Regions from separate parts of the Homo sapiens genome. Here regions 1, 3 and 4 are each linked to region 2. Evidence: fine-mapped expression QTL. A gene starts in region 2. Each other region holds a variant in brackets. All regions are shown on one strand. Distances are between the middles of the regions. Region 1 overlaps SLC38A8 (solute carrier family 38 member 8). Region 2 holds the start of HSDL1 (hydroxysteroid dehydrogenase like 1). Region 3 overlaps MBTPS1 (membrane bound transcription factor peptidase, site 1). Region 4 holds the start of MBTPS1 (membrane bound transcription factor peptidase, site 1).

Region 1 (5,758 bases), 110 kb after region 2:
CAGGATAGGTGGGGTGGGGTGGGGGTGTGTGCAGTGACATAGCTGGTAGACTGCCAACCCCATGTTGGCAGCAGCCCTGGCCTCTGTGGATGAGAAGCCATGTGGAGAGTGTGCCCGAGGGGTGGCTGGCTGGGGGTGGGTGGGCTGTGGGCACACCCCAGTTCCAGGTCCTGCTCCTTCTCCGCAGGTCTCGTTGGTCTTCCTGATCAGCGGGCTGGTCATCCTGGGCTATGCTGCTGCTGTCAGTGGCCAGGCCACCTACCAGGGTGTGGTCAGGGGGCTGTGTGGCCCTGCCATTGGGAAGCTGTGTGAGGCCTGCTTCCTCCTCAACCTGCTCATGATCTCCGTGGCCTTCCTCAGGGTGATCGGGGACCAGCTGGAGAAGCGTAAGTACCTTCATGGGACTCGGGGTGGCCCAGGGTGCCGGACCTCTAATGACCTCTTGGAGTTTCCAGTTGAGCAGGACGTGGGGCCCTGGCCTGGGCCCTGAGGGACAGCAGAGGCTGAAACCACACTCTTGTTCCTAACATGGTAGGGAAGGGAGGCTCCGAATGGATAGTCACCAGTTGGGTGACAGTCATGGGCACACAAGTGCATGAGAGAGGTTGTGGCTGCAATTAGGATATCCAGTGGAGATAAGTCGTTTCACAGATGAGTAAATGGAGCCAACAGCAAGCAGCTCCTTCTGAGAAAGAACCAGTAACACCTTTAGCTTTGGAATGGCTGTGGCTCTGAGCCCTCACCAACCTTGGCCTCGAGTTCCCGACTAAGACTTTCCCTCTAAGCACTGCTTTAGCTGCATCTTGCCAATTTTCATATGTCCTATTTTCATTTTCACTGGACTCATTCCTCATGAATGGAAAATTTAAAATATTTGCTCCTTTTCACTGTGGTTTCTTTGACTTGTGAGATGTTTAGAATTGTAGTGTTTAATTGACAATTATTGAGGAGTTTTTTAGATTCCTTCACGGTTTCGACCTTAATTTGCATCATGGTCAGGGAGTCTGTATCATTGCTGTCTTTTGAGATCCAGTGAGACTGGCTCTGTAGTCCAGCACATGGTCTGTCTTGGAGAACACTTTGTGTGCTCTTCAGAGAATGTGTACTCTGCAGTTGCTGGGTACAGTGTGCTGGCAATGTCCATTAGGTCAAGGCAGTCAACAGCTGTGTTCAGATCGTCATTGCAACCATATTAATCTTTAGGTCTAGTTATTCTATTCCTAAGAGAAGGATGTTAAAGGATGTTAAAATCGCCAGCTGCGATTGCAGATTAGCCTATTCTGTCAAGCTTCATGGTTCGTGGTCTTTGAAACTCTAGGTATATCCTTTTATTATGAAGTATTCTTTATCTCTGGCATTAAATCTGTCTTCTCTACCATTAATAGAGGCACTCTAGCATCCTTAAGACTAGTGTTTGTATAGAAGTTCTCTTCTCATTCTTTGACTTAGAATCTAACTATGACTTGGATTATTTTTTTGTTAAATGTGTTTATATGTCCTTTTTGCAACACCAGCCTGAGAATGGCTTGGGATTTTAAAATGCATTTCTTGTAGGCAGCATATGGTCGGGTCTTGCTTTTTTATCCAACTTGACAGTCTCAGACTTCCGATTGGAATGTTTAGACTTTTAATTGGCATGTGATTGTTGATAGGGTGAAATTTAGTGTACCATTTTGCCATGTGTGTGTTCTGTGTGTCTCTTGACCCATGAAGCAAAAGGCCCCTGACTGGGGGGTATTGAGATTGAAGGCTGCTGTGTCTTGGTAAACACGACCTTATACCAAGAAGAAGTGAGATTGGCGTATCTGAACCTCTTAATGGGTAAGTGGGCACAAAAACGTCCTGCTCCCCCACAGTGGCAAGTAGAGTTCGTCTGCAGTTTCAACTCCACTGAACTGGTAGCGTTGCTGTGTTAAGAAGGATTCTGAGCCTCACTGGGAGCGGAGCCCCCTGACTAGTCAGAGGACGGATGAGGATACGGGCCACCCCAGGTCTGGGTTGATTGACTGTGGTGGAGAGAGCGTTCTTGTGTATATCTGGTTAGATATTTGGGGATGCCTCTCTGTAGGGAAGGCCAAGCTTCTGAGACGGAGTGCTAGATAGAGGTTGGAGTGCTTGGGGGAGTCATGGCACGAGGTACAATTGACCATGTCTTTGGTGCCAAAGATCTCAAGCATCCGGGAACGCTGGGTTTAGGAAGGAGCTGGTACAGTCCTGCTGTTGGCCCTGAGGATCCTGGCTATGGGAGGTCCAGATGCAGACAAAGGGCCTGCCCCATCCCACGCCACCTGGAGGTCTAAAACTCACCCACGATCTCGGTGCAGTCCTGGGGCATGTGCAGTCCCTTGGCATCTCGGCTCTCCCACGTGGATGCTGCTGTGACCACCTGCTTTTGGAACTTTCCCCTTCATCATTTCGTACGCTTGAGCTATTCTCACATGCATTCATTTTTTCACATGGCTCCCCTTGTTGAGTGAGAACAAAGAAGCACTTAAGACACCTCAGGGCCAACAACCCACCGAAGGAGCGAAGACATCTCAAGCTCCTCGGCCTCCCATCTCCAGTGGTTGCAGGGGCCACCTCACCCACCCAGGTGGTTCCCAGTGGCTCCCACCTCCAACCACCCTCCCACTCGCCTGTGCTTTCCCCTCCCCCATCTGTCTTACCTCTTAGATGGGTTCCAAATCATTCATCCCACTGTGGCAGAATAAAAATGGCCCCACATTCTTTGGTGTTCTTTCCACGGAGAGGTTAGTGGAGCTTGTGTCCCTTGCCTTTGAATTAGGTGTGCCTGGATGGCTTTGTCCAGCAATGTGTGGCAAATGAGACACTGCCCATTCTGGGTCTGGCCTTTAAGAGGACAGGCAGCTTCTGCCTCAGTCTCTGGGGTCCCCCAGCTGCCATGGAAGAAGTTGGAGGTGCCTGCTAGGTGGCCCATGTGGAGAGACTCCCAGACTGCAGGGAAGGCCCAGGTGTACCCATCAGGCAGTAGGTGTTGTGGGGAGCCATCAGGGTTCCTCCAGACCAGCCCCACTGCCAGCCAGAGACCCCCCAAGCAACCTCAGCCAATTCTATATGGAGGAGGATTGGCCAGCCTGGCC[C/G]TGTACTAACTCTCTACCTACGATCCATGACTTGTAATAAAGTGGTTTTGAGCCACTGCATTTGGGGTCATGTGTTCTGCTGCAACCATGAGGACCTACAATGCTCATGCACAGCAGCCTGTTGCTGACGGCACGGTGGCCAAAAATCGACTTCAGGCCCCCATTTGACTCCAGATACTATTGAGTTCCCGAACGAAACCAAAAGAGTCTTTCACCAGAATGTAAGGGGCACGAGGGCAGATGGCTTGTCTGGTCATCGCCTCATCTTGGGCCTTAGAGCAGTGCTGGGCTTGGGGAAGGAGCCCAGCGAATGTTTGTTGAATGAATTCATGTGTCAGGGTTTGTTCCTGCGTGGGGCACGTGACCTGTCTCCATCTCACTTGTCGTCTGATCCCTGGGCTCCTGGGGCTGGCTGAGGGTGGATGTCCAACCCCAGCCAGGGTTGAAGGGCCAGGTGGGAGCCGAGAACCCACGGCATTTGTACTCTGTGGCTCAGCTCTCCCCGTGTCTCTGGCAGTGTGTGACTCCCTCCTGTCTGGCACCCCGCCCGCCCCGCAGCCGTGGTACGCAGACCAGCGCTTCACCCTGCCCCTGCTCTCCGTGCTGGTCATCCTGCCCCTGTCTGCCCCGCGGGAGATCGCCTTCCAGAAATACACAAGGTAAGGGCTGGGATGCTGCCTGGTGGGGGCCCCCACCTTGCTGAGTGTTTGTGTCAGGGTTTCTGTCCATCTGGGGTCAGAGGAGCTGGGGAATTGGCCTTCACATTTGGAGAAGGGGAAAACGAAAAAAAAATTATACAAGTAAAATGTATGCATGATGCAAAACATAGATGAGCCTAAAGAAGAAAATGACCTGTAACAACGTCAGTGCTACTCAGTTTATTTCATTGTTGGATTTTTTGCACATGGCTGCAGAGAGAGAGAGACGCCTCCCCACAACACACACCTACCCACACCCACACATACACACCCACCTACCCACACCCCCCCATGCACACCCACCTACCCACACCCCCCCATGCACACCCACCTACCCACACCCACCCATGCACACCCACGTACCCACACCCACCCATGCTCACCCACCCACACATGCACCCCCATCCCCGCATGTCCCCGTGCCCATGCACGCACATGTGTGCACACACACAGAGGTTGTTTTTTTGTGGCTAAGGGTCTGTATACTTAGGAAGAAATAAAGCTTGGAAACAGTATCCATCTCCCTCTGCTGCCTGCCTTTTCCCTGTTGTGTATGAACAATAGACATTGTATAGAAACAGCAGGCAGCAAACCCGAGCCTCCCTCAGGTCTCTGCCCTGCAAGGCTCTCGTGCCACTCAGACCAAGCCAGGGGGCGGCTTGTCCCCTCTCAAGTGTGAGCGAGCCTGCTGGCGTCCTGCCTTAGGCATCAGGCTGAGTGGCTGATTAGCTTTTGCTGGTGGGAAGGAAACACTATTACAGCTGCCATCCCGAAGGGCGCCGGGTGCCATTAAGAATTCTACACATTTGGGCTGGGCGTCACACCTGTAATTCCAGCACTTTGGGAGGCCAAGGCAGGCAGATCACGAGGTCAGCAGTTCAAAACCAGCCTGACCAACACGGTGAAACCCTGTCTCTACTAAAAGTACAAAAATTAGCGAGGCGTGGGGGCGGACACCTGTAATCCCAGCTATTCGGGAGGCTGAGGCAGGAGAATTGCTTGAACCCGGGAGGCAGAGTTTGCAGTGAGCCAAGATTGCGCCACTGCACTCCAGCCTGGGCAACAGAGCGAGACTCCGTCTCAAAAAACAACAACAACAACAAAACAACAACAACAAAACTCTACATCTGACCCCTTGACCCCAAAGCAGCCCTGCCCCACATGCCCCCTGTACAGATGAGGATGGTGAGGCAGAGGTGGACAGCTTGGCCAGCACCTCATTGTCAAGGGCGGAGCTGGGATTCAGATCCCACTACTGTCCCCGTGCATCAACCGCACATGTCACCCACTGCGCAGCCCCTCACACGGTCACTGTGTTAGCATCCTAGGCACTCTGGCTGCCTGTTACCTGGCCCTGGTCATCACCGTGCAGTACTACCTCTGGCCCCAGGGCCTCGTGCGTGAGTCCCATCCTTCACTGAGGTAAGTCTGAGGGAACAGCTTCCGGCAGCCTCGGCGGGGAGGCACGGCAGGGGAGTCTGTGAGGGGAGTCTTGGAGGAGGAGCCTCTCGTGGCTCACTGCAGAGCCTGGGCTCCTTCCTTCCAGTTCTTTCCGTCTCTGATGCGGTGAAGGCAAGGGAGGGCCACTCTCCTTCTGCTGCAGGGACCTGGCCGTGGCTAGCGATGACCGGGACAGGCCAAGGGACGCAGAACCGCCAAAGGCTGCGGCGGCCTAGGGGTCATAGGTTATTGCAGACTTGTCCCCACAGTGTGGAGGTACAGAATCTGGCAGCCATCCAGCTGCATGTACCGGGGCAGGGGAACAGTGAGGAGGCCGGTGTGGCCAAGCCAGCCGGAACAAGGGCAGAGAGCATGGGCGGGGATGTCGTACAGGGATTCAGAGCCACGGCGAGGAGTTTGGTTTTGCTCTGGATGAGTTGGGAGACTTGGCAGTGTTTTGAGTACAGCAGGGATGTGACAGGATTTGTTTTTAGAAAGGGTCACTCTAGGTAGGGTGTG
Region 2 (5,673 bases):
ATTAAAAAAGACTTCAAATAAATATGATAAAATGTTACTCATTTTCAATTCTTGCTGGCAAAACACGGGTATTTGTTTTAATGTTCTTTGTTCTTTTGTCTTTTAAAAAATTTCTGAAGCCAGGTGTAGTGGAGCATGCCTGTAGTCCCAGCTACTCAGGAGGCTGAGGCAGGAAGATCTAGCCTGGGTAACATAGTGAGATTCCATCTCTTAAAAAAAAAATCATAAAAAGGAAAATCACATGAAAAGAAACAAAAATAGTGAGAATATCTATGATAACAATAACATGAGCACATTCAAATGAATAATTTTTTTAAAGGTCATTCAAAATTGGCCAATTCAACCGCACTTAACTTTAAGAGCTGTTGTCTGCTGCTTTCTGTGTTTGTGTGGTCTATTGAACAAGACTAAAGGCTGTGCGTGTGGGGACTGGTTCTTAAACTCATCAATTTTGCATAGAATGCCCAGCCACAGGAAGCAACAGATAAATGTTTGTGGAAAAAATAAAGAATAAGCGCTCAATATATAAATATTAATATGTAATTAATAACAAGAGCTACCATTTAATAATGGCCCACTATATGCTGGGACATTTAATTATAATTCTCTCCTTATACTCCTGTATAATTATTCCAGCTTACAGATGAGGAGACTAAGGCTCCGAGAGGTTAAGCTCTGGGCCAACAGCCATAAAGCTGGCCAGCTGCTGAGCCTCAACTTGAACCCAGTGTCAATGGCTCCAAGACCAGTGTCTTTCCACTGAGTAATGCCAGTTCCCTATGGCTCCTCATACAAGGTTCATCTGGACAGTTGATGCTTAAGATATATTTGTTGCCTGGAACACAAATCAGCTGGTTTATTTGTTGCCTGCGTTCAGAAACTGGAACACAAATCAAGTGGTTTTTTAATGTAATCACTAAAAGGTTTCCTTTAGGGCACCAAGTCTAGTGGGAGCAGAAGCTGAAGCCAGGCTTCCTTCTTTCCTTTTTTTTTTTTGAGACGGAGTCTTGCTCCATTGCCCAGGCTGGGGTGCAGTGGTGTGATCTTGGCTCACTGCAGCCTCAGCCTCCCCCTTGGCTCACTGCAACCTCTGCCTCCGGGGTTCAGGGAATTCTCCTGCCTTAGCCTCCCAAGTAAGTGGAATTACAGGAGCACGTCACCACGCCCTGCTAATTTTTGTGTTTTTAGCAAAGACAGGGTTTCAATATGTTGGCCAGACTGGTCTCGAACTCCTGACTTCAGGTGACCCACCTGCCTCTGCCTCCCAAATTGCTGGGATTACAGGCGTGAGCCACCGTGCCTGGCCATGAAGGTTATCTTTCAAGTCCATTCTGGCAAACTTTGGTGAGGGGATCACACACTGACCCCAGAACCAAGTCTTCATTCGGACTCTCTACCCTAGGTCAGGCACTGGACTAGACTCCAAATTCAATCAAGATGTCTTGCCCTGACACAACATGCAGTCTGGAGGGAGAGAAAGCCTTTGATCTTACATAGTGATAGCAATAAAGGGACACATTTAAAGCATCAAAGTTGGGACCAGGGAGAATAGCGTGGTGGGTTAGGGCTGGGGCTCTGGAGACCCAGACTGTCTGGGCCTGAGTCTGGTGGGTTTTGTTTGCTTGTTTGTTTGTTTGTTTGTTTGAGACGGAGTCTCCCACTGTCGTCCGGGCTGGAATGCAATGGCGAGATCTTGGCTCACTGCAACCTCCGCCTCCCGGGTTCAAGCGATTCTCCTGCCTCAGCCTCCCAAGTAGCTGAGACTACAGGCGCCCGCCACCACGCCCAGCTCATTTTTTGTATTTTTAGTAGAGACAGGGTTTCACTATGTTGGCCAGGCTGGTCTCGAACTCCTGACTGACCTGATGATCCGCCCGCCTCGGCCTCCCAAAGTGCTGGAATTACAGGCGTTGAGCCACCGCACCCGGCCAAGTCTCTTCTGTCACTGACTAGCCGAGGGTTATCTGTTTGGTGCAAGTTTTGTAACCTCTTAAGTATGTTTCCTCCTCAGTACGAAATGGCGAGAGAAGCCCCTACTGCAGAGCGTTGCTTGCTACCATTATTATTATTGTTATTATTTGGCTGTGAAGATCGGGTATGTGGTGTGGGAAGGGGGCTGGAGCGCCTAGCCGTGTCTGCCCCTCGCCCACCGCCCTCCCTGGGGGGCAGTCGGCACCTTCCTTGCAGCCCCCTCGGCCTGCGCTCCCGTGGTCACCCGCAGACTCCTCCACGCCGGGCTCCTGCGCGCAATCCAGCTCTGCTGCACCACCTGTCGCAGGCTCCGAGGGCTCAGGGTGCATGTTTACTTCGGCGACACCGAACGCCCCGCAGCTTTGGGGGGCCCAGGTTCGCGGCGGACGTCGCTACGGCCCCAGCCCAGCCAGAGAGTACCCTCTTTCCTTCTTCGCCAGCCGCTGGCGCCCTAGTCTTTACAGCCCAACGCTTCCCCGGTCGCCCAGGCAACCGCTGCGCACGCGCACTCGGGACGGACCGGCGCGCTGGGGACGCCGGGGGGTGGGGGCGGGTCTGAGACGGCTCCGCCCCCGGCGCGTACGCGGGTCACGTGAGGGCGCGGCGCGGCAGCAGCTCCGGCGGCCGAGACGGGGGCGGCGGCCGCGCGGGTCTGGCGGGACCGGTTTGGAAGACTTTGCCGGCCTGCAGGTACCGCGCCCCCCGCGCCCTGGGCGCCCTCTCGCGGTCCTTTCGCCCCAGACCCCTCCTCGGTCCCCTCAGCGCCAGCCGGCTGCTTGGCGAGACCCCTCTGAGCTCTCACCACGCCCCCCAGGCCCCGGGCCCCCTCCGCTGCATCCGGCCCCGAAGCCCCTTGGCGCCCCTGACCCCAGGAAATCTTCGTCCCTCCGTCCCGTGAGACTCCTTCCTTCAGACCAAAAAGCCCCAGCCCCGCCCCTTCACATCTCAGAGCCCCCCTTCCCCCGGCTCCATCCTCACGCCCCCCGCCGCGGCGCTGCACCCCTGTTCTCTCTCTTCCCCCGGGCCTTGCCCCCCAAACCGCGAACCCCGTTGTCGCCGGCGCATGCCCTGCCCTCCCTGCAGCCTCTCACCCGGCTCCTCCCCCGAGCGGCCCCAGCAATCGCCTCCTTTGTCGGTGCTTCTTTATTCTCATTTCTGAACGATTTGGTTTGAGTTGTTGTTGCCGTGTTTTTCTAAAATGGAAATATGCAGCGGTCGTGGGTTCAGCCAGGATTTCCGAGTTTGCTCGTGTTGACTGGGCCTTGCCGGGTGCTGGAGGGGAAGGGCTGGGAAGAAGAACCAGGCAGGTCCCCGTTCTGAACGTGCCACCCAGACGCAGCCCCAGAAACCGGATCGCTGCAGCGCCCCTCGGCGATCCCAACATGATGTGTACAGGTGACTGCGAGGCAGTCGGGGGGTCTCACAGTGGGCTCCCTGGACAGGACTCTGCGCCTTGCTATACCTCCATCTGAATTGCAGGTAGCCCCTTTCTGAGTTGTGGGGTCTTGGGTGTGCGACTTTACATCTATAAGACTCAATTTCCCCATCTATAAACGGGAGAGTCTGACTGCGCTTTATAAGATTAATGAGAGAATAAAGTGAGACAATAGGAATAAAGCACTTAGCAGAGTCTTTTGCATAAAGTGAGCTCTCAATTTTACTCTGACCGCCACAGGAGAGAGAGAGAGAGAGAGAGGGAGGGAGGGAGAGGGAGAGGGAGGGGGAGGGGGAGGGTGTTGATTGATTGATTGATTCAGACAATCTCGCTCTGTCGCCCGGGCTGTAGTGCAATGGTGCCTGCGATCTCAGCTCCTGCTACCTCTGCCCGCCATCCCGCACCCCGGGCCCAAGTGATTCTCCTGCCTCAGCCTTCCGAGTAGCTGGGATTACAGGCACGTTCTACCACACCCAGCTAATTTTTTTTTTTTTTTTTTTAGTAGAGACGGGGTTTCGCTGTGTTGGTCAGGGTAGCCTTGAACTCCTGGCCTCAAGTGATCTGCCCGCCTTGGCCTCCCAAAGTTCTGGGGTTACAGACATGAGCCACTGTACCCGGCCAAGTTTGTGGTTTTAATCACTGCTGGAATATTCTAGGGCAACAGAGTTGAACATATTGGTGCTACTTTTTTTTAAAGTAGGTTTTCAAAAATCGAAATGACTTACGCATGACATAAAATTTATCATTTTAGCCATTTTACAGTGTATAACTCAGTAGTTCTTGCTATAGTCACAATGCTATGCAACCATCACCAGTAACTAATTCCAGAACATTTAATCACCTACAAAAGAAACCCCAACCCCATTAACAGTCATACCTCTTTTCTCCCCCTGTCCCTCAGCAGCCCTAAGTTATCTTCTGTCTCTATGGATTTGCTTATGCTGGACATTTCATACAAGTGGAAACATACAACATACGGCCTTTTGTATTTGGTTTCTGTCCTTTAGCATAATGTTTTCAAAGTTTATCCATGTTGTAGTATGTATCAGTACTTCATGCTTTTTTATGGCTGAATAATACTCCTTTGTGTGGATAACACCACATTTTGCTTATTCATTCATTTGTTGATGGACATTTTGTTTGTTTCTGCCTTCTGGCAGTTGTGAGTAGGCCACTGTGAACATGCAAGCAGGAGTTTTTATGTGAGCAAAAGTTTCTAATTATCTTGGGTATCTGCCTAGGAGTGGGGTACTCTGAATATTTTAATTCTTACTGCATAAATACAGACATGATGGTGAAGAGTGTTGGATCTTGGATGAGAATCCAGGTTTCTAATTCCATGTTGCTGCTCTTTAGGCTCAGCTTCATTGTGCGTTTAGTCCTATACCAAAAATTGGCAGTGAAGGTAAAGACATCCCAAAAAGTCTTGATACACCAATGCTAACTTTGTCATAGTGCTGACGCAGAGTATGAAAAGCTTAAGTTTTTTTCTCAAGAGTGAAATTTGAGCTTTGAACACAAAGCAGTATTTGATTCTGTTTATTAAATAAAGTTGTCTACAGCAGCATGTCAGGTGCTGAGGAGGAATATTAAAGATGTGTGAGATCCGGCCGGTCACATCCCAGTGCTTTGGGAGGCCAAAGTGGGCGGATCACAAGGTCAGGAGTTCAAGACCAGCCTGGCCAATATGGTGAAACCCCCGTCTCTACTAAAAAAGAAAAAAATACAAAAATTAGCCAGGCATGGTGGCACACGCCTGTAGTCCCAGTTACTTGGGAGGCTGAGGCAGAAGAATTGCTTGAACTTGGAAGGAGGAGGTTGCAGTGAGCTAAGATCGCGCCATTGCACTCCAGCCTGGGTGACAGAGTGAGACTCTGTCTCAAAAAAAAAAAAAAAAAAAAAAAGATGTGTGAGATCCCAGCCTCACACCATCACAAAACGCCAGGAGGATTAAAGACTTAAACTGAAAAAGCAAAAATGTAAAATTTCTAGAAAATAATTCGAAAAAATTTCTTCATGACCTGAGGCTAAGGAGGGATTTCTGAAATAAAACAAACCCTAAAGCAGAAAGATTGATATATTTGTCTCTTTCAAAATTAAGACATTCAGCCAGGTGCAGTGGCTCCCACCTGTAATCCCAGCACTTTGGGAGGCCAAGGCAGGTGAATGGTTTGAGCTTACGAGTTTGAGACCAGCCTGGGCAACATGGTGAAACCTCATCTCTACACACACAAAAAAAATTTAACTGGGCTTGGTGGTACATGCCT
Region 3 (5,000 bases), 75 kb after region 2:
CTTCCTTCCCTCAGCCTCAGGTTTTCACAGTTTGTCCACGCCGTAGTGCTGTCAGTGCCGCGCTGCTTCCTGTGTTGGAGTAGTGCTCCACTGGGCGGGTCGGCCACATGGCGTTTCTCCGTTCATCTCTTGCTGGGCATTTGGCTATTCTAGGTGGTACATCTTTCAGCTTTCAGCTTAGATGGGGGTAAAACGGGCGCCTTGTGTAATGTGCACTTCAGTTCTTTGTGGGGTGGGTATCTTTGGTTGTGTTTACGAATTCTGTTTCCTCTTGTATGAGTTACACGTTGATTTCGTTGGCCCATTTTTCTCCTGGAATTGGGATTTTCTCTATCAATCCTAACATGATCGCCCTGTCATAGAGAAATTCACCATTGCTGTGTGTTCAGCAAAATGTTCCTCCAGGTGATGCTCTTTTCCCTTTAATATTACTTACTGTGGTGGGGATTTTTTTCCTTCTGTAAAAGTTTTACATTTCATGTAGTTGAATTTTTATGTTTTGTGACTTTTATTGTTTTGCAGATGGAAACATCATTCCAGAGAGATAATAAAATTTCCATTTTATTTTTCTACTAATTTTTATGTATATGATTGTTAAATATTTAATTGTTTCATCTGTGTTAATTTGATGTGTTACAAGAGATGGGCGAAAGTTTTTCACTTGGGAACCAGTGGCTCCAAGAGCATTCTTTAAAAATCCCTTTTCTTCCTCATTATTTGGGACACCGTATCCTACAGATATTTTTCTTTTTCATACTTTTTTCTTAACCCACTGGCTTACTTGGGAAGTAAGTTCTGGCTGTGTGGATTGTGGAGGGAAATGAGTAATTTAGATTCGTCTGAAATACCGGTTAGTTGCAAGCTCTCATTGACGTCTCTTCCAGATGGCCTCTGCTCACGCTTCCCTTTCTGCTTTTCTCCCACCTGGAGGGTAGAAGGGTGGTCATCTCGCAGCTGAGCCAGTCCTCCCTCCGGCCACCTCTTTCCAGCTTCAGAATGTGACTCGGGACAGCTGGTGTCCCTGTCATGTTACTGCTTTCAATTAATGGGATTTTTTTAAAGCATACAACTAATTGGGAAATAACCTTAAATCTGAGAGTTTTCATCTATATAAGTTCTCTTAGTCAGATGAAGTTTTTCATCAAAGAACTTTTGACAAAAGTTCCTGTTTTATAATAGAAAAAAAATGTCTCCATAAAATTGGAAGCTGTCAGAAATAGTGGTTTCTAGACTTTTCTAGTGATACGTCCGAGGCAGTCCATAGGCTACTTTGGTTGTAGTTACTTAGTATCTGTGTATAAATTTTATTTTTCCCTATTTAGTGAAGTATTTCTCGGAACCAGTTTTGGTAAGAATTGAGTTTTTCTGGTTTCCACGTGTTTTCTCCTGGAGCTTTTCACTTTAGCCTTTGTCTGATTTCTTTTTCCTGCAGCCTGACTGGCAGCCCTATTTGCCACAGAACGGAGACAACATTGAAGTTGCCTTCTCCTACTCCTCGGTCTTATGGCCTTGGTCGGGCTACCTGGCCATCTCCATTTCTGTGACCAAGAAAGCGGCTTCCTGGGAAGGCATTGCTCAGGGCCATGTCATGATCACTGTGGCTTCCCCAGCAGAGACAGAGGTAGGGATATGCGGGAAAGTGGCTTGTTTTCTTAGCTGTTTGACATCACCTTTCAGGGAGGGACAGGCCAAATGCCTGGGGTCTCCATTGGAAGTACAGTTGACAGATAGGCTTATCCTCGATGGCCACAATTGATGGTTCCAGGGCCTCCGGAGCAGCTGGAGTTTGAAGAAGTAGCTCAGTCAGTGAGTGCTAGGGCTTGCCGTTCTGTGGCCACACAACAGCAGAGAAGACTGTTTTCTACCAGATTTCAAGCTCAAAAGGAGTGCACCAAAAATATACATTCTCTAAAAGGAAATGTAGGGTTAATCCTATGAGGCTCTAGTAGTTTTTATTGATAGAATATGCCTTAAATTTTAACTGTTAAACTCTTTAAGTGTTTGAATGGACTTAGTTATGATACATGAATCTTTCATCAGACATTTGTTATTGGAAATTCTTGTGTTCAAATTATTTAGGTTAAGTTGATAAATAGAAATGATGTTTTCAAACCTGAAAGTTTCTTTCTGCACAATGAGGGCGTTTCAAGTTTCTTTTCTTTTTTTTTAGTCAAAAAATGGTGCAGAACAGACTTCAACAGTAAAGCTCCCCATTAAGGTGAAGATAATTCCTACTCCCCCGCGAAGCAAGAGAGTTCTCTGGGATCAGTACCACAACCTCCGCTATCCACCTGGCTATTTCCCCAGGGATAATTTAAGGATGAAGAATGACCCTTTAGACTGGTAAGCACCTCACAGGATGCACTTCACCTCCCCAGCCTCCGTGGTGGGAGGAGGCACCACTGTTCCCGCAACTCTTGGAAAGATGTTGCTCAGCTTCTCGTGGAGCCTGGACTCTGATGACGCTGAGATGTTCAGGCTTTTGCCATGCACTTAGGGCAGCCTGACTTCTCTTTTGAAACTTTCACAAGTATGATTATGCAGTAAAAAGCTTGAAGTTCTCTTTTCCTTCCTTCTCCCATTGCGCCAGTCAGCAAAGCTGTCAGTCTTACCCTCAAACTGCATCCTGGATCCTTCCATCTCTGGCCTTCTCCCTGCTCCCACCCTAGTCCATGCCATTGTCATCTCTTGCCTGGACCACATCAGCAGCTCCTGAGTGCCACTGCTGTTGCTGTTGTTGCCCTAAATTCCACTCCTCTTCTGGCAACCTTGGTAATCTTAAAACAAATTCTAACACAGTTTGCCTCAAGCTCTCCAGTGACTGCCTATTCTGACTTCCTCACCCGGCCAAGCCCCCTGGTGTGACCCATGCAGCCCTTCAGAAGCTGGCACTGCTTCCCCCGCAGTCCCCATAGCCGCTCTCCCTGTGCCTGTTCCCTGCAGGGCAGCTGGGCTGACTTTCTCTTGGTGCATTAGCCAAGCTCATTTCTGCTTTTATGTTTGGACTACGTTTGAACTCCATGCTGAAAGTAGGGGAAGGGGAAGCATTGAAAGATGTGACCAGGATAGTTACAGAGTCAGACTTGCCTTTTAAA[A/G]TAAGATGTCTCTGGCAGCCAGATTGGAGGGGCTCAGACCAGAGACGGGTAGACAGGAAGTGGTGGGAAGTTCATAGACCAAGGCAAGCCCGTTGGCCTGCAGGAGAGGACCTGGAGTCTGTGCTGCTGGGAGGTGAGAATGAGGTGACCCCTAGAGGGTGTATACAGTGTCCCATAGGAAAGTGAGCTCATTTGGGAGGGACGGGGATGGAAAGTTGACCAGTGGCAGTGATATCAGTTAGCTGTGCCGCTGTCTTAGCACCGTGGCCCTGCGTGGCTTGTTCCAGCGTCCCTGCACTCCCGCGGCTATTTGCTAAGCTCTTCTGTCAGACACAGATGGTTGCCAGCAATTTACTTGAACGCGACTGCTACAGTGATGGTCCAGGACACATTAAACATGTCTTTGGCCATTTCTTCTGGTCATTTTGTCTCTTTCATGCACCTGCCAGGCACATGGTTTCTTCTTATCAGCCATTTCCGTGTGTCCAGACCAGAGCACACAGGTCTCCTAAGCTGATGCCTGTGCCAGTGGGCCAGCCATCCAGGCCTTCTCTGTGGGCCATGGCATGGTGCTCTTGCAGAGCCGGCCCTGTGGCCAGATATGCCTTTATTGCCAGTAAAGATCGATCATTTTAATGCTGTGGCCTATTGTTTTTCAGGAATGGTGATCACATCCACACCAATTTCAGGGATATGTACCAGCATCTGAGAAGCATGGGCTACTTTGTAGAGGTCCTCGGGGCCCCCTTCACGTGTTTTGATGCCAGTCAGTATGGTAAGTGGCACTGCTGTGCTAGCCAGATGGTCTTTCCGCCCACTTTGGATGTTTGTTAAATGTCTGAGGAGTGAATCCCAGTTTTCAGTGATAGCTACCAAGGGAGTATGCGCCGTGGGCCCCACAGCTGGGTGAGCCTGGGGCGAGGCTCTGAAACAGGTGGTGGCGGTGTGACATTCAGCTGAAATACAAGACAGGCTGATTGGAGACAGGGACATTCGTACTCTTTTTTCTTTAAGTTAAAAGCAGCTCTGCTATATATTTTGCTCCTTCTCAAGTGAATGAAAATCTTTATCCTGAGCACCACAAGTGAAATCAGATCACAGTTAGTCGCTGTGTATTGCTGGATCCTGGTCCTCTACTTTTTAGTCCCTTTTAAAGTGGTACAGGGTGGCACAAACCAGACTGTTAGGTGTCAGTAACCTGAGACATGTACCTGGTGACACTGTTTCTGCCGTGGTGGTGTCCTGTCATTCAGAAGTGACAGTTCCCAGCTTTGGTTCTTTGTTCATCAGGCACTTTGCTGATGGTGGACAGTGAGGAGGAGTACTTCCCTGAAGAGATCGCCAAGCTCCGGAGGGACGTGGACAACGGCCTCTCGCTCGTCATCTTCAGTGACTGGTACAACACTTCTGTTATGAGAAAAGTGAAGTTTTATGATGAAAACACAAGGTACTGTTGATACGCATTGGTATTTGGATAAGACTTTTGGGGAATCAAATTCTACCCAGCAAATACTTAAGTGATGATTTGACCTGTTGGTGGTCTTTCCAGTTGGCACAGACACATTCAGAGAGCTTGATTAGAAAAAAAGCCCTTTCGACTGAGTGCGGTTGCTCACGCCTGTAATCCCAGCACTTTGGAAGGCTGAGTTGGGCAGATCGGTTGAACCTGGGAGGCCAAGGCTGCAGTGAGCTGAGATCAAGCCACTGTACTCCAGCCTGGGTGTCAGAGAGACCCTATCTCAAAGAGAAAAAATAAAACACAAAAAAGAAAATAGTCCTTTATACAGTAGAGAGGTTCTTGAAAGTTGCTCATAGAGTAAGATGTTTATTGAGTATGAGTACTGTTAATAATATAGAGGGTTCATTGTCTTTCCTTGTTAATCTTAGATATGAGATACTTCAGGT
Region 4 (5,798 bases), 27 kb after region 2:
AAAGAAAAACATTGTATGCTGAAGTTGCTGAGATCTGCAGTAAAACAAATCTCTCCATGACATTGGAAAGAAGGAAAAAGAAATTCATGCTAGTTTTGCTGTCACACCTCAAACTGCCAAAGTTCCAGCCACGGTGAGTCCCAAGACCATCCACCGGAGGTCTTGGAACATGTCCCCTCGGATAAGGGAGCACTACCGTAGGCACTGCAGGCTGTCACGGTGTTGTCGAGGATAAGGCATGTGTGACACTGTTGTCACACAGCTGATACCCTAGGCTGTGCTTGTTGGAACAGTTTACCTGCTCACTGACCCAGAAGCTGGGGATGCAGGTGGCATCCTCAGCCTCCTCTTGCCTCACCAGCCCGTGCTGTGTAGCTGCTGCAGCATGTCACCACAGTGGCATTGACCGTCTGTCCCATTCCCTAAGCCACTGGTTCCTCTTTTTCCTGGGGCTGCTCAGGCAGGGGTTCTCCATGCCTTGAGGATCACAAGAAGCTTGCAGTTGCCAGGGTCCAGGCTGTTGGCAGGGATTGAGAACCTCAGTGCGATGGGAGGCAGATGATGGGGAGATGGGAGGGGCTGGAGCCAGATGTGAAAAACCCGTTATTCAGCAGCTTCTCAGGGGTTTGGGAGTGCTGTCGGATTTGAAGTATCTTCTGGATGAGGGAGGTGGCCATTGGGTAGCTGTGCTTGGGAACAGTGTGTGTGTTCTTGACCAGAGGTAGGTCTCTTAGACAAGAGGTTTCAGAAGGTGGTTTGCCCACTAACAAGGTATATGTGATGTACCCAAGGGACCACACATCCACCTTGAAACGGTGCCCTTTCTTTCCCAGCACCCTGGGAGTTACATAATCAGGAGTCCCACCCAGGGTCTTCCTCTGCCTTCCATCATGTTCGACTTTGGTTGCCAGTCCAGATCTTCCCGTTTTCACCTCCAGGTCATCATTCAGGAAGAGGGGGTACAGCTTGAGGTCCCGGTGACTAATCCAGTTTCAGGCAGGTGCCGGCAGCCAAGGATGATCTACTGCGGGCAGTAGTGCCCTCAGGCTTAGCGCTCTCCCCGTGTGCAACTCCATGAGAGGTCTCAGGTGGCAGAGCTCCAGCACCAGGAGCATGAAGTTGTCCTTGAAAAAGCCACTGACACCTGAGATGTGCTGGTGGGCGAGGCTGCAGTGAGTATAGCGAGAGGCTGGAGACGTCTCCAGGGACGTCTCCTCTGGGTGCGGATTGAGCAGCAGTGACTCAGGTGCGATCTTGCCCGAGAACACCTCCTTGGTGTTTGCCTCCAAGATTTTGATGCTCTCAGCAAAGCCACCCTTGCCAAAAAAGCAGCCTGCCTGTAGTGCCACCGGCAGGTTTACTAGGACCTCCAAGATCTCTGCAGAGTGGCTGCTGGGACTCCAGGAGCCACAACTCCAGGGAGGCTTTCCCAGGGTTGGCTAGTGCCTGTGCCATCAGCTATTACTCTTTAAAATAACATTTCATTTGAATAAAGATTTACCTTCCCATGGAATTACAGATGCTTTATTCTGTATGTGAAGCACAAGTTTAGGAAGTTATTTTAGAACCAGAGTGGTGGGAATCCACCAGTGGTAGACCAGGATCCTGTAGCTCAGGCTGTCTTGGTAGCTCTCCAAGTAACTTCTCTCCCACACACCAGTCCCCTCAGTGTATAGGCATTCTCTGAAACTGGTGGTGGTGGCATTCTCTCCCCTTCTTTGGGGCCTCGCTGTCACATGATGGATGCCTGCAATCACTGTTCTACCCCAGTTTCCAGCTGTAGGGCCATGTATTCAATGGCATAGTGACTAAAGGGCTGTTCAGAGAACCCTGACCAAGATTAATTTACCTAAAGTTGGAACAGAAGGACATAGTCAAGTTTAAAATCAAATGCTTTGTGTGGTGGCAGAAGGGAGTGCCTTTGACGGTTTGCAAATGCAGAGAGGCAAGGATTCTCCAAAAGTTCAGAAAATCGTATGAGATCTGAGTCAGGAAAGGATTCAAGAATCCACCACCACATATTGAATCATATAGGAGCCGAGCACTTTATGAGTATGCTTTTTGTTTGTTTTTGAGACAAGGTCTTGCTGTGTTGCCCAGGCTGGAGTGCAGTGGCACAATCATGGCTCACTGCAGCCTCGACCTCCTGGGCTCAGGCAGTCCTCCCACCTCAGCCTCCCTAGTAGCTGGGACTGCAGGTGCACACCACCACACCTGGTAAAAACAAAACCAAACACAACTATAGAGACATGTCTCTGTTGCCCAGACTAGTCTCAAACTCCTGGGCTCAAGTGATCCTCCCGCCACAGACTCCCAAAGTGTTGAGATTACAGGCATAAGCCACTGCGCTAGGGCTTATGTGTGTACTTAATTTAACCCTCATCCTTTAAGGTAGATATTAGTACCCCTATTTTTTAAAAAAATTATTTATTTATTTTTAAGGCAGAGTCTCGCTCTGTCGCCCAAGCTGGAGTGCAGTGGTACGATCTCAGCTCACTGCAACCTCCGCCTCCCAGGTTCAAGCGATTCTCTGCCTCAGCCTCCTGAGTTGCTGGGATTACAGTCATGCGCTACCACACTCAGCTAAGTTTTTATATTTTTGGTAGAGCCGGCGTTTCACCCATGTTGACCAGGCTGGTCTGAAACTTCTGACCTCAAGTGATCCGGCTGCCTCGGCCTCCCCAAGTGCTGGGATTACAGGCGCGAGCCACCCCGCCTGGCTAGTACCCCTATTTTTGTAATGAAGAAGCTGAGGTACAAAGAGGTTAAACAACCTGCTCAAAATTACGAAGTAGAAGCCTGAGGTGGGGTATGGTAATTTGTGATTCTACATTTATCCACCATATTAAGTCAACTGTGTTAAATCATGTTGAAGGAAGATGATGCGCTGTGATCTGTAATATTGGTGCAGTTCAGCATTACCGTGGTGCAGTGTCAAGTTCCAAAAGACACAAAACTGTCTGATCGGCCTGTAGCGCATCACCGCCCACCAGCAGTACCTGAAGACGCTTTCAGTCCCCTGCTAGTGCCGTACGGAGTCCGGGCTGGTCCATTTACATTGAAAACAAACTGATCCTAGCATCTAAGTCACCCAGACATCTTTTAGGCGGCAAGCTTTTCAGACAGTTTAACACATTTATTCTTGTTTTTTCAAAAAGAGCAAACACGTGGCGTTACAAAGGTCCTCCGTTTCGCACGCACCGGTGTCCCGGCAGCGCGCTGCGCGTCGGGAGGCCCAGTCTGTCGTCCCGTGGGGCCGGGGGTCAGGAGGTCGGGCAGGCGGGATTTGGGGTTTCGCGTGTTCCGGACCGGACACTTCGCCATCTTAACGAGCTACCGCCCGGGTTAAGGGGCACCCAGGGCAGGTGCCCGGCCGGGGGTGGGGTGTCCGAGCCGCCGGTGCCTGGACGTGGACCCCTGCAGGAAGGGTCCGCGCGGGAAGCGAGCTCTCCACGAGTCCATGACAGCAGGCCCGCGGGGGCAGGGAGCCTGCGCCAGGCAGTCTTTCTAGATCCTGGCCCAGCCTGGCCGCTTTCGCGCCCGTGCTCCTTTTCGGGGATCCTAGAGCGACGCGCAGAGCGGACCAAGGGTTCCCCCAGCGCGTTCTCGCCGCCTGGCAGCTCGCTGGCCACGCCCCTCCGCTTCCACCCTGCCACCGGCCCCCGCCGCCGCAAATGTCGCGAGACCTTCGTCCATCCTCCCGGCGTGGTCCCGCTGCCCACGGCGTCCAGAGCGCGCACGCAAGCCCCGGGAGCGCGGGACAGACAGGGCA[C/T]GCTGGGTCGGCGGAGCTGAGGCTCCCAGCTGTGGGCCTCGCTGGCCCGGTCGCCCAGTCTCGCGAGAGTTGGGAGTAAACAGCCCCGAATGGAGTGCCCAGGCGTGTTCGCCGCGGAGGCGCCGTTATCCCGGGCCCGCCGGCCCTGAGCTCCCGGCGGCGCAGGTACGTCAGCCGCCCGCGCGCGGCCTCCCCGACCCGCTCCGCCTAGCGGCGGCGGCCCGCTCGCTCAGGTGTGCCGGTTGCGTCCGAGGCCCCGAGGCGAGGGCTGCGGGGGCCGGGCCGGGTCGGGGGAGGTGGGCGCGGGGCCTCCGGCGCTTGTTTGGACACAGCGTGCCTGTACCGCGGCCCTGCGGGGGTCTGCGCGCTCCGGCAGCTTGTTCCGTTGCCTGGTTTTCTTTACGTGAAATGAGCATTCACCGAGTGAAACAATACGCCCTGCTCTGGCCCGGAGCCTCCAGACAGACTCAATTCTAGGTGCGCTTCCGGGGCAGTGCTGGCGTCAGGTTTAAAAGACGTCGATTCTTTGCCTTATCTCGGTCTGTGCATATTGCGCTGCTGGTTTTTGGAAATGCGGGGATTCTGTTCGGCGAACTCTCAGAACCAGATTGCCTTTTAAACCTGTAGCTTCTTAAAAATCTTGCCTCGCCTTGGCATGGTTGCGCTACCTAAGACCGTTGTGGATCGTCAGTATTTTTATTAAGATGTTTACCTTTCATATTGGGTTGAGCCCCTGAGAATCTTGGCCTATTTGTCTACACAAATTAAGTTATTAGATTCTGATTGACACTTCGAAATTACGTGGAGTGGAATACGACCTGCGTTGAATTCTGGAGACTCATCCTTTAGTCTGAACTGTGTAGGTAAGCCCTCCTAACGTCAAGGTCTCCAATTGTATGTCTACGAAAAGGAGGGCTTGCAGAAGAGAAGTAATTCCTCTCATTTTTTTTTTTTTCAATCTGGAGAATCCGCTTTTATTATTTATACTTATTTTTTAATGTAAGAGCTTCATTGAAGTAGAATTTACATACCATAAAATCCACCTGTTTTAAGTGTACTATTCAGTGGTTTTTAGTAAATTTACAGCAGCACAGCCACTACCAAATCCACTTTTAGAACATTTCCGTTACCCCAAGACCTCTGATGCCCAGTTGTAGTCAATGCCCATTTCCAGGCCCCGCCACAGGCAACCTTTCATCTACTTTGTCTTTCTAGATTTGCCTTTAATGACTATTTCGTATATTCAGATGGAAACATATGATATGCGGCCTTTTGTGTCAGGCTTCTTTCACTTAGCATGTTTTCACAGTTCATCCATGTTGTAGCATGAATCAGGATTTCATTCCTTTTATGACCAAATAATATTCAGTTGTATGGCTATACCACATTTTGTTTAAGCATTTATGCAGAACACTTTTGACAAATAAAAGTTTATTTTATGCTCTAATGTGTGATGCGGATGACAGCAAAACTGTTGATTGAGAATGGGAGCTGGGACCTGACCCAGACACGTGTCAAACGACTGCACTCCCCAGGCACCCCGTATAATCAAGAGTTGGTCCTTTCTATATAAAAAGGGAAAATTCCAATGCAGAGCTTGCGGAACCTTTGAAGCACCTAGGGAAGAAGTGGGAGCTCTTCTAGTCAGGAGGTTAACAAGAACTAGGAAGGCTGGGCCGGGCGCGGTGGCTCACGCCTGTAATCCCACAATTTGGGAGGCCGAGGCGGGCGGATCACAAGGTCAGGTGTTCAAGACCAGCCTGGCCAACGTGGTGAAATCCCGTCTCTACTGAAAATACAAAAATTAGCTGGGCGCAATGGCAGGCGCCTGTAATCCCAGCTACTCGGGAGGCTGAGGCAGGAGAATCCCTTGAACCCAGGCGGCAGAGGTTGTAGTGAGCCAAGATCACGCCGCTGCATTCCAGCCTGGGCGACAGAGTGAGACTATGTCTCAAAAAACAAAAAACAAAAAAAAACTTGGAAGACTGAAGGCTAAGGTGAACTGTACATTGCTGCCATCAGTGCT

What was found.
Region 1: its variant is fine-mapped to the expression of HSDL1 in whole blood (TOPMed, PIP 0.99).
Region 3: its variant is fine-mapped to the expression of HSDL1 in whole blood (TOPMed, PIP above 0.99).
Region 4: its variant is fine-mapped to the expression of HSDL1 in T cells (TOPMed, PIP 0.99). The same link has a PIP of 0.9 or more in whole blood.

Annotation. Positions count from the first base shown.
Region 1 is chr16:84,031,330-84,037,087 of GRCh38, reverse strand. It overlaps SLC38A8 (solute carrier family 38 member 8), which reads left to right. Exons shown (of 11, transcript NM_001080442.3): 3 at 188-386; 4 at 3,619-3,760; 5 at 5,120-5,221. Among named protein-coding and RNA genes, the nearest start is that of SLC38A8, 8.6 kb to the left of the region's middle. RefSeq lists an enhancer at 3,613-4,113. The variant C/G (reference allele first, on the strand shown) is at 3,102.
Region 2 is chr16:84,142,068-84,147,740 of GRCh38, reverse strand. HSDL1 (hydroxysteroid dehydrogenase like 1) reads left to right here and starts at 2,564. Exons shown (of 6, transcript NM_031463.5): 1 at 2,564-2,661. It overlaps DNAAF1 (dynein axonemal assembly factor 1), which reads right to left and starts at 2,433. Exons shown (of 12, transcript NM_178452.6): 1 at 2,177-2,433. The coding sequence starts at 2,300. RefSeq lists silencers at 2,380-2,829, 2,990-3,039, 3,090-3,139.
Region 3 is chr16:84,067,209-84,072,208 of GRCh38, reverse strand. It overlaps MBTPS1 (membrane bound transcription factor peptidase, site 1), which reads left to right. Exons shown (of 23, transcript NM_003791.4): 13 at 1,433-1,621; 14 at 2,171-2,343; 15 at 3,755-3,870; 16 at 4,386-4,542. Among named protein-coding and RNA genes, the nearest start is that of SLC38A8, 27 kb to the right of the region's middle. The variant A/G (reference allele first, on the strand shown) is at 3,096.
Region 4 is chr16:84,114,874-84,120,671 of GRCh38, reverse strand. MBTPS1 (membrane bound transcription factor peptidase, site 1) reads left to right here and starts at 3,730. Exons shown (of 23, transcript NM_003791.4): 1 at 3,730-3,937. MBTPS1-DT (MBTPS1 divergent transcript) reads right to left here and starts at 3,629. Exons shown (of 1, transcript NR_186375.1): 1 at 1,509-3,629. It also overlaps the pseudogene LOC648774. RefSeq lists an enhancer at 3,000-3,159 and silencers at 3,310-3,409, 3,810-4,239. The variant C/T (reference allele first, on the strand shown) is at 3,773.